4 linked regions of the Homo sapiens genome follow. The protein of the gene in region 4 purifies or fractionates together with the protein of the main gene of each other region. This does not show direct contact. Each region holds a gene or a part of one and is shown on either strand. Other genes may lie near its edges.

Evidence for each region.
Region 1: the proteins of CFAP36 (region 4) and OSBPL9 purify together in Homo sapiens (affinity purification with mass spectrometry; 2 studies listed by BioGRID and IntAct, with this or other methods). This does not show direct contact.
Region 2: the proteins of CFAP36 (region 4) and BDH2 purify together in Homo sapiens (affinity purification with mass spectrometry; one large-scale study listed by BioGRID and IntAct). This does not show direct contact.
Region 3: the proteins of CFAP36 (region 4) and OSBPL11 purify together in Homo sapiens (affinity purification with mass spectrometry; one large-scale study listed by BioGRID and IntAct). This does not show direct contact.

What each region holds. Positions count from the first base shown.
Region 1 is NC_000001.11:51,760,088-51,763,600, reverse strand, and holds part of OSBPL9 (oxysterol-binding protein-related protein 9), read right to left. Parts: intron 2,912-3,513; coding exon 2,821-2,911; intron 1,735-2,820; coding exon 1,630-1,734; intron 1-1,629. UniProt on the Homo sapiens protein: Interacts with OSBPL11 to function as lipid transfer proteins.
Region 2 is NC_000004.12:103,082,826-103,086,338, reverse strand, and holds part of BDH2 (dehydrogenase/reductase SDR family member 6), read left to right. Parts: exon of another isoform or gene 1-598; coding exon of another isoform or gene 599-640; exon of another isoform or gene 641-876; coding exon 877-990; intron 991-3,409; coding exon 3,410-3,468; intron 3,469-3,513. UniProt on the Homo sapiens protein: NAD(H)-dependent dehydrogenase/reductase with a preference for cyclic substrates. Catalyzes stereoselective conversion of 4-oxo-L-proline to cis-4-hydroxy-L-proline, likely a detoxification mechanism for ketoprolines.
Region 3 is NC_000003.12:125,532,989-125,536,501, forward strand, and holds part of OSBPL11 (oxysterol-binding protein-related protein 11), read right to left. Parts: intron 1-3,513. UniProt on the Homo sapiens protein: Plays a role in regulating ADIPOQ and FABP4 levels in differentiating adipocytes and is also involved in regulation of adipocyte triglyceride storage. Weakly binds 25-hydroxycholesterol. Interacts with OSBPL9 to function as lipid transfer proteins.
Region 4 is NC_000002.12:55,526,207-55,529,719, reverse strand, and holds part of CFAP36 (cilia- and flagella-associated protein 36), read right to left. Parts: intron 843-3,513; coding exon 728-842; intron 283-727; exon of another isoform or gene 1-282. UniProt on the Homo sapiens protein: May act as an effector for ARL3.

The DNA of each region.
Region 1 (3,513 bases), on a different chromosome or scaffold from region 4:
TAAATCACAGGGTAATTATTCATCATTACACAGGAAAAATCCTACCCGGGAAAAAAATCTGAGGATGAACAAAAGGGGCTGATCTCCCACTTCTTCAAGAGTGGTTTTGGTTTTGGTTTCCAGGTTTAACAGTGTGAAAAGTGCTAGATGCTTCCTTGAGTTTGGTTCTACAAGTTATTCAACATACATTTAATTAATTTTAAAACAAGATAAATCTAGTATCTAACACTGATAGTATCCCTGTAAAACAGAGAAAAAATAAAGACCCTAAGCCTAAACGAATTAAGAAAATGCAGGCTGGGCGCGGTGGCTCACACCTGTAATCCCAGCACTTTGGGAGGTGGAGGTGGACAGATCACCTGAGGTCAGAAGCTCGAGACCAGCCTGGCCAACATAGTGAAATGCCGTCTCTACTAAAAATACAAAAATTTGTGGGGCGTGGTGGCGCACATCTTTAATCCCAGCTACTCAGGAGGCTGAGGCAGGAGAATCACCTCAACCCAGGAAGTGGAGGGTGCAGTGAGTCGAGACAGTGCCACTGGACTCCAGCCTGGGCAACAGAGTGAGACTCCATCTCAAAAACAAAAAACAAAACGTTTAAACAAACAAAAAGAAAATGCAAATTAAAATGAAGTATCTTTTTTCTAACTATAAAACTGGCAAAAAGGTGAAAGACTGATAAATGTTTTCTAAAAAAATATACATATGCCAAAGGTGCTGTACAAGGATATCACTGAAGTATTGCTTCCATCAGTGGAAAAAACAAGCAATACCTGCCCAGGCAGCTGTAAAAAGAATGCTGTAGACCTAATTTTACAAACATGGAAAGTGCTCTAAGTGTTCTTTGTTAAAGGAAAAACGCAAGTCACAGAAACACATAACCTAAGTTAGGTTTAAACAAAAACAATAAAAATACACGACATAAGTGTATATGCACATACATGTATGCAAATTACTGGGGGGAGAGTAAAGAGGACTTGCAGTTTTTATTCTGTGCACTTCTGTGTCAGCTTCATAATAAGAAAGTATGCAAGTCTAGCTGGAGTAAATTTTTCAAAAAGTCAACATAGATCACCAAATAAATGTTAAGGTAACAAACAAACAAAACTCTGTAATATTTTATTTTATTTAAATTATTCCAGGCATGGTGCCTCATGCTTGTATAATCCCAGCACACTGGGAGGCTGAGGCAGGAAGACTGCTTGAGCCCAAGAGTTTGAGACCAGCCTGAGCAACATAGGGAGACTCCTCTCTACAAAAATTAAAAATCAGCCAAGTGTGGTGTGTGTGCCTGTGGTCCCAGCTACTTGGGAGCCTGAGGCCTGGGAGGTCAAAACTACAGTGAGCCCTGATCGTACCACTGCACTCCAGCCTGAATGACAGAGTGAGACCCTGTCTCAAAAATAAAAATTTTAAAAACTTAAAAATAAATAAAACTTAACTAAAGCTTCTCTTTCAAACACAAAGCTAACCACTTCATGTATGGAACTATAATGTTAAAACTAACATATCTCCAACAGAAAATATACAACACATTTCTTCAACTTTCCCCCTCCTCATCAGAGGTCACAAACAAACCTCAAATGTTAATAGAGTTATGAGACATAAAGAAATTATGCAAATCTGTACCTGTACTATTTGGTGTAGGAGTCTGATGATGTCCCAAGGTAGCCAACACAGGTCCAACTGGTAGGGAAGATGGACGCTGCTCTGACTTACACAACTGAACAGGTTCTAGGAGATTTGAACGTATAAAATAAGGTACAGAAACAGCCAAACACACATTCTATTGACTGTAATTGTCTGGGATTCAAAATCCTAAAGGCCAGTAATTTTTGAAACTTTATTTCATTAAGTCTAGTTCCATGCTACTCCTTCCTTTTGACTTCCTAGCCTCTTAAACTCAATGATGATAGGCTACAGAGTACTAAGATACCAGGCAGGATATCAAAAAACCAGCCACAGTAGGCCAATACTGCAGTATAACTATGCTGTAAAACCAACAAATGCTTCTGATGATAATGTGTTTCTGAGCCTCAAACCACAAAAAATCTGAAGTGGAGTACAGTACCTGTTCCTCTTTAGCCCCAAGAGGTAGTTTAAGCTAATTCACTTAAGAAGTAAAAACTCACAAAAGGATTTCACATACTTACTAGTACTTTTAAAAAGAGTTTTCCATTTTACAGTACAATTTCTGACTTCACTATGCCATCGAGAACATAGAAATGTTGGATATAACAAAAGGGCAAAAGGAATCAGTCAGTGTAGCTAGGTATTGGCCCTGAGCCCTTCTTTGCCAGTTTTTAAAAAATTGCATGTATTGCTTTATACAAAAAAAAAAAAAACAAAACAAAACCCAGATGTCATGTGATCAGTAGGCATCATAAATTTCCCTCTTCACTTTCTCATTATCTTAAAATCTACCATGAACATACCATTTGTATTGTTCAGAGCTACACAGAATACCCCAAAACGGAACATCCCTGGATTATCCAGAATAAGGTATAGTAATTTTTCCTCGCTAGCCATGAATTCTGAGTCATAGAATCCTGTTCTACCAGTGAATCCAAATCGTAGTAACCAAGTTTGTTTTCTATCTCACTTTGAATAACAAAACCACTTTCATCACACTTCAGTAAAGCCCCAATATCAAAACATTATCATCTTTTTTCAGTTCACTTTTGGCTGTATTATTTTTTGAGTGCTTTTATTAAAAACAAGGAAAATCAAAAATAAACAGTAATAGCTAAGACTGCTATGACAGCCACACAAATTATTTTTTTCTCATCAATGAATCTAAGAAACATTTTCCCAAATTACCTGGAGGTAACACAGTCTGGGAAGGCATTGTGCTGATCACAGGTTCCAAAGGACTAGGTTGATATATTGCATCTACGGGATTAATAGTACTCTAAAATAAAGAAACACAATATAGCTATTTTTAATTAAATGCTCTTCTCATGCTACCCTCCCAAATGCCCACATTTATGACTTCAAAATCCTGAGGGTAGCTATATAGATATGTTGATCAAAATGAAAAGAGGGAATGAAACACCTTTTCTATACAGAAGTGTAAGAGTTGCTTAAAGCATAGTAAGGAAAGACAATGAATGAATCTCTGTCACAGAAGAAGGTAAAGCTAAATGGAAAAACTGAGGAGTTATAAAATGGTGTGGGGAGATTTCAGGAAGTCAAAACCACCTCTCAATTCAATTCGGTGCTTCTCAATCTCTTAATTCACCACAAATATTGTTTCTCTGTTTTTTTCACTTTTGGTGAGTTACACCAAATGTCCAACTGATGTACCTGCACCACTAGGATCTCATCTTTCCATCCCATACTGCTGCTATCACACAGTACAGTCACTCCTCAGGTATCCAGGGGGACTGGTTCCAAGCACCCCCCGAGGATGCCAAAATCCACAGACACTCAAGTCCCTGATAAAATATCGTGTAGTATTTGCATACAACCTACACATACGCTCCCATATAAGTTAAATCATCTCTAAATTAC
Region 2 (3,513 bases), on a different chromosome or scaffold from region 4:
AGTTCCTTAACCACAGATCTTTTGCTCTCGATGTGAGCCAGTGGTAAAATTAAATTAAAATGTGGGGTATTTTTGCCCTCCCTTTTATTCTTTCTAATGGACATGGAAATGAACATCAAACTGGGAGAAAGAACCATTTAACATTTAATTAATTTAAAATAGTGTATTGAGCACCGGTATGTGCTCTGGCCATAAAAGAATTCACAGTCCAAAACTAGGAGCAAGGCAGCAAACATCATCTTCTCCAGTGTGATGATATATAACAGAGGTTTGTACAAAGCGCTGTCAAAATACAGGGAAATAACTGCCTGTGAGTTTGTGGAATGCTTCACAAAGACAGTTGATCTGAGCCATCAGCAAGAAGTCAAGTTGAAGGACAAGGACAGCAGTACAAAATGTGGATTATGTCACAATCTGGCATAGTTGGATCTGTGAGTTTAAAATGAAATAGTTACTGCTGAGATACCATTTCTTCTCTTTGCAAGGATACACATATTCAACATACACAAGAGAGGAATGTAAAGAAGTGCCTAGGCCTCCTGTTTTATTGTTTTGTTTTGTTATTAATCTTCATTTTCTTTTGGAATCTGCCTAAGAGTTATGGCAACTGATGATGAGAAACTAAGACTACCAATGTTAAGTAAGTTCAGCATTTCAATTAAGTCTCAATTAAGTTGTGCCTATACTGATATTATTTCCCTAGATCCAGAAACTGACTCTATTGAAGGAAAAAAATCTGATATCAATCTTTTTAAAAGGGGAGGAATGTGGGAGAAAGCATGAAAATGGCTACTGGGAAAACTTATTTGTGTTACCTTTCTGAAGGAAAATACATTTTTTATTCCTTCAATTGTTGAACCTTTCCTCCACCCTCAGGAGTTGTGAACAGATGTGTGTACAGCACAACCAAGGCAGCCGTGATTGGCCTCACAAAATCTGTGGCTGCAGATTTCATCCAGCAGGGCATCAGGTGCAACTGTGTGTGCCCAGGTGAGTAAGGCACACCTGTTTTGTAAGCAAAGTTTTACTGAAACACTTCCACACCCAATTTGCTTATGTTATTGCCTATGGCTGTTTTCATGCTACAAAGGCAGAGTTTAGTATAATAGTTGCAACAGATAAAATGACTCTCAAAGCCATAAATATTTTTTGTCTGCCTCTTTACCAAGAAAGGTGTGCCGATCCCTCATACAAAGCAAAGAAGAAAAGCAGAACTTTCCTTTTCTTAATAACTATAGGGGTGTGTCTCATTTTCACAATAACCGTAGATGTGTTTATTAAATTGATATGTACTTTTACCTGGTTCTACCAATCTAAAAGGAACTTAAGGTATCTAATAAGGATTATAATATTCTTTAAAAAGAAATGATTGCATATCCAGGATCAAGGTTTCCCTTGGTAGTGCACAATTGATAATGGGGGGTGGTGTGTGAAAGGGAAACATTTCAATATGACCTGGGGACCTTTCAAACCTGAAGGGCATGCCAGAATTTAGGGAAGGAGTTCATGGAGAGAATTGTGTGGTTTAGAAAGACCCACAAGAGATTCTGATTGAATCTTCAGTTGAAACCCACTGACTTAAAGAGGGGAAACTAAACATCCCCCAAGCTACAGAATTTCAGCGATTGAGATGTTCTGTTTTATTTTTCTTGGAACAGAAATGTAAACGTAGGTAACGCTAAGAAAAAGAAGAATGCATGAGAGGTCATTTCATTGGGTTTTAATGTACATCCTGGCGATACTTGAGTCTAGCTATTCTTGGTGCCATTTACCCAGTGGAATAAGTGGTAAAATGATTTGGAAAATGTGGTTGTTTCAGCGACTGGACTTATCAGGAGATTGGAAAATATGTTATCAAACTCTTTGGAACAAGGAACTAGCTGTGACTCAGTGAACCAATCACAGAAGAAAACTTGAGGAGGACTGAGTATGTCTGAGATGCTGCTGATGGTTGTATAGTCACAAATCTCCAGCCAGACTTGTGTAGACCCTGGCATAGTATGTCTGTGCCATGGACACAGCTGAACCCAGTGACATTGGAATACTCTAAAGGCATGGGCTTGCTCTACAGTTCTTATTTAATAGCCATTAGTACCAGTCATATGTAAGATATGATGTTCATTTACCTCAGAGGGAGAAAGCTATTAAAGCTGTAAGATTCTGAAGGAGTGTTAGTGAAAGCTTGAGGTGCACACTGTTGGTAAAACTGTGGACTTTAAGGAGGCTATTGAGGAAAGTGAGGAAAATATTATTGAAAATTAGAAAAAAGAGTGTCTTTGTCATACAGTTTCAGAAAGTACATCAACACTGTTGCCTGTAGTGTGAAGGTAGAAGATGTTCCTAATGAACTGGGTGATCTAATTAAGGTGATTTCTACCCAGAGTCTTGAAAGTGCTGGCTGCTTATAGTAAAATGTGACAAGAGACAGATAACCAACCTAAAGAGGGGGTTCCAAAATGGAGTCAGGCTTTCTGATTTTGAAGATTTCCAGCTTCATCAGAAAAAAATAGCAAATGATGCTAAAATTAAGAAATGTTTTCTGAATAAAGATCAAATCTATGGCACTCTCAGGAACATGATCTAAGGGTGAAGTATGACTGTAAAACCATTTGTTACAACCTCAGAAAGATCACATTATTTGCCAGAGTACTCTTTAGTCTGAAAAAGGGCCCTCTAAAGAGAATGAACAGTTTATGTCCGTTAACAAAAAAGTCTGGGTAACGTGCTCTAGGAGACCATAAACTAAGTGGAATTTTAAAATGTTAGCGTTGTTCTTATTTTTCTTTTTTAAAGTAAAATAACTTTAAATTAGATTAAATTATATTTTTGATTAAAAACTTGAAACTGTGGTTAAAAGTAGGCATTTGAAACAATGAAAATAGGCAAGGTGATAAGAAAAATTTAGCGCCACCTGAATTACCAAGGACTATGGTAGCCATGGGATTGTCCCCAAAGATGCCACAGTGAACTTGACAGCAAAGAATGGTTTTGAGATCATTGAGGCAAACTGGCTCCTTAAGCTGGCAAAGTGCTTGTACGATTTTATCTACATCTCAGGGTTATTGTGAGGATTAGCTGAGATCATATGCATAAATGTATTTAAAATCCATAAAGCATCATATAAATGCAATGTGACTAAAATATATGTCCTTGAGAATGCTGGGTGATTCATCCAGAGTCCCTACATAGTGTCACGAAGAATCATAGTCTGTGTTTTTAAAATCATAGAAATGTTATTGAAGAAATTATAAGCCTATTAAATAAGAGGCCTCAGGCAGGCAGCTGTAAAGTTGTCATTTTAAGTCAAGGAGAAGAATCTCACTGATTGTCATATGGAAAGGAAGTTTAGTTATCGATTTCTTTTTCAGTGAAAGTGAGTAACCAAGCTGAATATCCCCCTTTGATTTAGGAACAGTTGATACGCCATCTCTACAAGAAAGAATACAAGCCAGAGGAAATCCTGAAGAGGTACATCTAGCATTTAAAATGTATTTAAACCTTTTGTTAATAAAT
Region 3 (3,513 bases), on a different chromosome or scaffold from region 4:
TTTATAGAGACAGAAAGTTAGTGGTTCTCTGGGCTGGGGGTAATGGGGATTAACTGTAAATGAACAAGAGAGATCTTACGGTAGGATGAAAATATTCTAAAACTTATTTATGGTAATGACTGTACTACTCGAGAAAGTTACTAAACATCTGTTTTTTCTTTCTTTCTTCCTTTCTTTCCTCCCCCCTTCCTTCTCTTCCTCCCCTTCCCTCCCTCCCTTCTCTCTCCCTCCCTCCCTCTTTCTCTTCTGTTCTCGTCTCTTCTCTTTTTTCTTTTTTTGAGACAGGGTCTCACTGTCACCATCTCAGCTCACTGCAACCTCTGCCTCCCGGACTCAAGCAATTCTCCTGCCTCACTTTCTTGAGTAGCTGGGACTACAGGCGTGCACCACCATGCCCGGCTAATTTTTGTATTTTGAGTACAGACAGGGTTTCATCATGTTGGCCAGGCTGGTCTCGAACTCCTGACCTCAAATGACCCGCCCACCTCGGCCTCCCAAAGTGCTGGATAGTATGCCAAAGGTCTTATAATTTAAAGAATTAAGGCTACATATGTATCTTAATGGCTCCAAAAGGTTTCCTAACACATTTCTGAAAATCAAGTATCAAATATCCTTTTAAAAAAATATGATACATGAGATGGCTCAAAAATAAAAATGAATTTATAAGGAATTCTCCATAAATAACCAAAGACATTAAAACAAAAACAGAAACATCAAGACATAACAATCCTAAATATAAATGCCTGCCCTAATAACAGAACTTCTAATAAAATGAAGTAACAACTTGCAGAACTACAAAGTGAAATATTCAATTGTAATTGGTAATTTTAATAACCAATCTCAATAACTAAACTCAACTGATAGAATAAATACACAGAAAATCTGTAAGACTACAGAAGACTAGAAAAATACTGTCAACTCATTTGACCTGACGTTTATAGAACACACTCACCTCAGCCTCCTGAGTAGCTGGCATTACAGGCACATGCCATCACATCCAACTAATTTTTATATTTTTTGTGGAGACAGAGTTTTGCCATGTTACCCAGGCTGGTCTCAAACTCTTGGGCTTAATACACATTCGTGTCAAGGGCACATGAAACATTTACCAAGGCCAGGTGTGGTGGCTCATGAATAATTCTAGCACTTTGGGAGGCCGACGTGAGTGGATCACTTGAGGTCAGGAGTTTGAGACCAGCCTGGCCAACATGGTGAAACCCCATCTCTACTAAAAATATAAAAAAATTAGCTGGGTGTGGTGGCACACGCCTGTAGTCCCAGCTACTCGGGAGGCTGAGGCATGAGAATCGCTTGAACCAGGGAGGTGGAGGTTGCAGTGAGCCGAGACTGCATCACTGCACTCCAGCCTGGGCGACAGAGTAAGACACTACTTTGTCTTAAAAAAAAAAAAAGAAACATTTACCAAGACAGAACATATTCAGAATCATTAAACAAACCTAAATAAAGAATTAAAATCATACAAAGTATATTCTTTCACCAAAATGAAACTAAATTAGAAATAAATAATGGAAAGCTAGCTGGAAAATCTCTAAACATTTAGAAATCATCAACACATTTGTAAATAAGTTCATGAGTTAAAAAAAAAAAACCCACAAAGGAAATAAGAAAATATTTCGAAATGAAAACACATAAAAAGTCATCAGATAGAAATAAAGCAGTCCTCAGAGGAAAATTTACAGCATTAAACATTTAGGAAAAAAATATTGATGAGCTAAACCAGGGATCAAACTATGGCCCACAGCCCATTTTTGTAAATAATTTTTTATTGCAATTTAACAATGTCTCATCATTGACTTATTGTCTATGGATGTTTCATGCTATAAGGGCAGAGTTGAGTAGCTGTGGGAGAGGCTATTTGGTCCACTAAGGCTAAAATATTAATTGGCCTTTTACAGAAAAAGTTTGCTGACCCCTAACCTAAGCTTCCATTGTAAGAAATTAGAAAAAAAAAAAAAAAAAAAAAAAAAAGCAAATTATTTACAATGTAAGGAGAAAAAAAGAGATTTTATAAAAGAGCAAAATTCAATGAGAAAGAAAACAAACATAGATTAAATCAGTGAAGCCAAAATCTGGTTTTTTGTGTAAAATTAATAAACTTTTAGTCACACTGATGAGAAAAAAGATATTACAAATATAAGGAATAAGTATGGGGATATCACTATAGATCCTACACAGATAAAAAAATAAGGTAATATTAGGAACTATATGACAATAAATTTGACACATTAGCTGAAATGAACCAATTCCTTGAAAGACAAACTACCAAAGCTCACTGAAGAAACAGAAAACCTTAACAGCCCTATATATTAAACATACGTAATTTGTAATTCAAAACCTTCCCCTAAAGAAAAGAACAGAGCAATATCCCTCATGTATATAGAAACTATAAAATTCATTACAAAATTTTAGCAAATAAAATTCAGAAGCATCTTTTTTTTTTTTTTTTTTTTTTTTGAGACAGTCTGGCTCTGTCACCCAGGCTAGAGTGCAGTGGTTCAACGGCGGCTCACTGCAACCTCCACCTCCTGGGTTCAAGTGATTCTCATGCCTCAGCCTCCCGAGTAGCTGAGACTACAGGTGCACGCCACCACGCCAGGTGATTTTTGTATTTTTAGTAGAGATGCCTGGCTGATTTTTGTATTTTTAGTAGAGATGGGGTTTCACCATGTTGGCCAGGCTGGTCTTGAACTCCTGACCTCAAGTGACACACCCGCCTTGGCCTTCCAACATGCTGGGATTATAGGCGTGAGCCACCACACCGGCCCAGAAGCATCTCTTTATCTGCCCATACATTCAATCTGTGGTGATATATTGATTTAAAGTATATATAGGAAAAATCTGGGCCGGGCATGGTGGCTCAAGCCTGTAATTCCAGCACTTTGGGAGGCCGAGGTGGGCGGATCACCTGAGATCAGGAGTTCAAGACCAGCCTGACCAACATGGTGAAACCCCATCTCTATTAAAAATACAAAAAAATCAGTTGGGTGTGGTGGTGTGCACCTGTAATCCCAGCTACTTGGGAGGCTGAGGCATGAGAATCGCTTGAGCCCAGGAGGCAGAGGTTGCAGTGAGCCGAGATCATGCCACTGCACTCCAACTTAGGTGACAGAGTGAGTCCATCTCAAAAAAAAAAAAAAAATTCTGGCCTCACACAGATACAGTTTGAAAAAGAGAAGAAATATTTTTACAGATTTTTCAAATAATTCAATTCTTTCATACTGTTTCAAAACTCGACAACTGGTAATTTTAAAAAGGCCAGTTGCAATGTGGAAAATTTAAGAATGTCAATATTTTTTCAAATAACTTATATGGAAATCCACTGGTCTAATGTGCATCCTGAATGGATCATTTATCCATGCATGATTCTGTAATATCATGCATTAGTCATTTGAAAAATACTGGTTCATTGAGTTATGCAGATCTTCCAGATGTTGACATACTATACAATATTTTAAAAAATCACGTTCAATAATATAAGCACCAAGTTCACCA
Region 4 (3,513 bases):
AGCCGAGATCATGCCACTGCACTCCAGCCTGAGCAACAGAGCGAGACTCCGTCTCAAAAAAAAAAAAAAAAAGAACCACTGCTTCCTACAAAGGTCCTAACAATCTTAAGCCAGAAAAAGGATGGACACCTCTCAACAGTAACCACAACTATGACCATTCAAAAATACTCAACTTCATAAACATAATGGCTGGGCAGAAAATTGAACTCTGTGAAATCCAAAGTATCATTGAATTCTGGTCTCCTTTCTTTGAGATGTCAAATACAAATCAGGAAGTTTATACTCTTTTTTTTTTTTTGAGACAGGGTCTCACTCTGTCACCCAGGCTGGAGTGCAGTGGCGCGATCTCAGCTCACTGCAAGCTCCACCTCCCGGGTTCACGCCATTCTCCTGCCTCAGCCTCCCAAGTAGCTGGGACTACAGGTGCCCGCCACCACGCCCAGCTAATTTTTTTGTATTTTTAGTAGAGACGGGGTTTCACTGTGTTAGCTGGGATGGTCTCGATCTCCTGACCTCATGGTCTGCCCGCCTCAGCCTCCCAAAGTGCTGTGATTACAGGCGTGAGCCACTGCACCCAGCCATATACTCTAAAATCTCAAGTCAGCTGAAGTCTTTCAAACTTGAAATAAATGTACATGAGACAGCTACATTTAAGACCATATTAGAATAGTCAAAACTGTAAAAAAAAATGCATTTAGTACTTAGATTTCTAACTTCAACATTTTACCATTTCTCTCTTGAATTATTCGAATGGCTTGCAGCTGCATTTCAATGTTTTTCTGGACCATCATTGCTTTAAAGATAGTAAAATCTTCTGCTGCCAACACAGGTTGCAAAATGGCCTGTGGAAAGAAGTCTCAAGTGAAATGAAGATTCAAGTTTTAAAACTATTACCCATACATTCGAACCATTTCTACTGCAAAACAGTAGATTAATTCAAGAATGCTACATTGTTATTTATGATTAGATGTCCCAAAAGGACAATTTTAAAATTTATCTTAATAGCCTTTAAAACAGGGTTCTCAGCCGGGCACGGTGGCTCACACCTGTAAACCCAATACTTTGGGCGGCTGAGGCAGGCAGAACACTTGAGGTCAGGAGTTCAAGATTAGCCTAGCCAACATGGTGAAACCCCATCTCTACTAAAAAAATAAAAAAATTAGCCAGGTGCGGTGGTGCATACCTGTAGTCCCAGCTACTCAGGAGGCTGAGACCGGAGAATCATTTGAACCAGGAGACAGAGGTTGCAGTGAGCCAAGATCGCACCTCTGCACTCCAGCCTGGGTGACAGAGCAAGACTCCGTCTCAAAAAAAAAAAAATTTTTCAAAAGGATCAGTATTGTGATATGCAAATTATATCTCAATAAAGTTGTTTAAAAAAAAAGAAAGCTGGAGTAGCTTAATTTAGTTTCAGATAAAGTAGACCTCAGAACAAGAAAGATGATCAGCAATAAAGAGGGGCATTTGTTTATAATTCTATAAAATATAATACTTTATGATTATTCTATGATTACATATTTTATATATAATTATATAATTCCTTATAATTCTATAAAACAAAAATTGTGGCCAGGCGCAGTGGCTTATGCCTGTAATCCCAGCACTTTGGGAGGCTGAGGTGGGCAGATTACCTGAGGTCAGCAGTTTGAGACCAGCCTGGCCAACATGGCGGAAGGTGTGTACCACATCACCCTGCTAATTTTTTTGTATTTTATAGAGTTGGAGTTTCACCATGTTGCCCAGGCTTGTCTCAAACTCCTGAGCTCAAGCAATCTGCCCACCTTGGCCTCCCAAAGTGCTGGAATTATAGGCATGAGCCACCATGCCTGGCCCACATGTGTTTTTTAGAGTGTGTTGTTTAATCTCCAAGTATTTTGTTTTTTTCCAATTATCTTTTGTTATTTATTTCCAGTTTAATTATGTTGTGGTCTGAGAGCAGACACTGTATGATCTCTCTTCTTTTAAATTTGTTAAGGTATGTTTTATGGCCCATAATGTAGTCTGTCTTGACGAACATTCTGTGTGATCTTGAGAAGAATGTGTATTTTTGATTATTGGATGAAGTGGTGTATGTCAAATAAATTCAGTTGACTGAAGGTGCTGTTGTTTGTTTATTTATTTATTTATTTATTTATTTTGAAATGCAGTCTTGTTCTGTCACCCAGGCTGGAGTGCAGTGGCGCGATCTCAGCTCACCGCAACCTCCACCTCCCAGGTTCAAGCGATTCTCTTGCCTCAGCCTCCTGAGTAGCTGGGATTACAGGTGCCCACTACCACACCCGGCTAATTTTTGTATTTTTAGTAGAGACGGGTTTCACCACGTTGGCCAGGCTGGTCTCGAACTCCTGACCTCAAGTGATCCACCCACCTCGGCCTCCCAAAGTTCTGGGATTACAGGCATGAGCCACCGTGCCTGGCCTGAAGGTGCTGTTTAGTTCAACTATGTCTTTACTGATTTTCTAACTACTGGATCTGTCCAATACTGACAGAGGGTGTTGAAGTCTCCAACTATAATCATGTATTCATCCATTTCTCCTTGCAGTTCCGTTTCTGCCTCACACATTTTGTTGCTTTGTTATTAGGTACATACATATTAAAGATTGTTATGTCTTCTTGGAAATTGCCAGATTTTTTCACATTAATGTGGGCATACCAATAACATTTAAATTATTTTATTATTATTATTATTTTAGAGACAGGGTCTCACTCTGCAGCCCAGGCTGGAATACAGTGGTACAGTCATAGCTCACTGCAGCCTCAAATTCTTGGGCTCAAGCAATCCTCCCACTTCAGCTTCCCAAGTAGCTAGGACTACAGCAGCGTGTCACCATGCCCAGCTAATTCTTGTATTTTTATTTTTTGTAGAGATGGGGTCTTGCATTGTGGCCTAGGCTGGTATTGAGACCCTGGCCTAAAGTAATCCTCCTGCCTCAGCCTCCCAAAGCATTGGGATTACAGGTATGAGCTATCACACCCAGCCAAAATGTAGTGGCTCACACCTGTAACCCCAGAGCTTTGGGAGGGTGAGGCAGGAGGATTGCTTGATGCCAGGACCTCAAGACCAGCCTGGACAACACAGCATGACCCCCTCTCTACAAAACAACTGAAAAATTAGCCAGGCATAATGGTGCACACCTATAGTCCTAGCTACTCAGGAGGCTGAGGCAGGAGATTCACTTGAACCCAGGAGTTAGAGGTTGCATAGAACTATGACTGAGCGACTGCAGTCCAGCCAGGGTGGCAGAGAAAGACTCTGTCTCAAAAACAAAAACAAACAAACAAAAAAGGTTTTCTATTCCTAGAATTAAAGGTGATCATCAAATGAAAAGTTGTGCAAAAGAGGAAGTGCTGGATTAAAAAGTAGTCAAGGCAACCTCTTCTAGGCCATCATAACAAGACAATTTAAATTAATAAACATTTATTGAGAACTATGTACTAGCAACTAAGTTTTCATCTCTGTTCTACCAGCAGGGAATGCAAATATACTAAACACAGCTCAAAGGACTTACAATT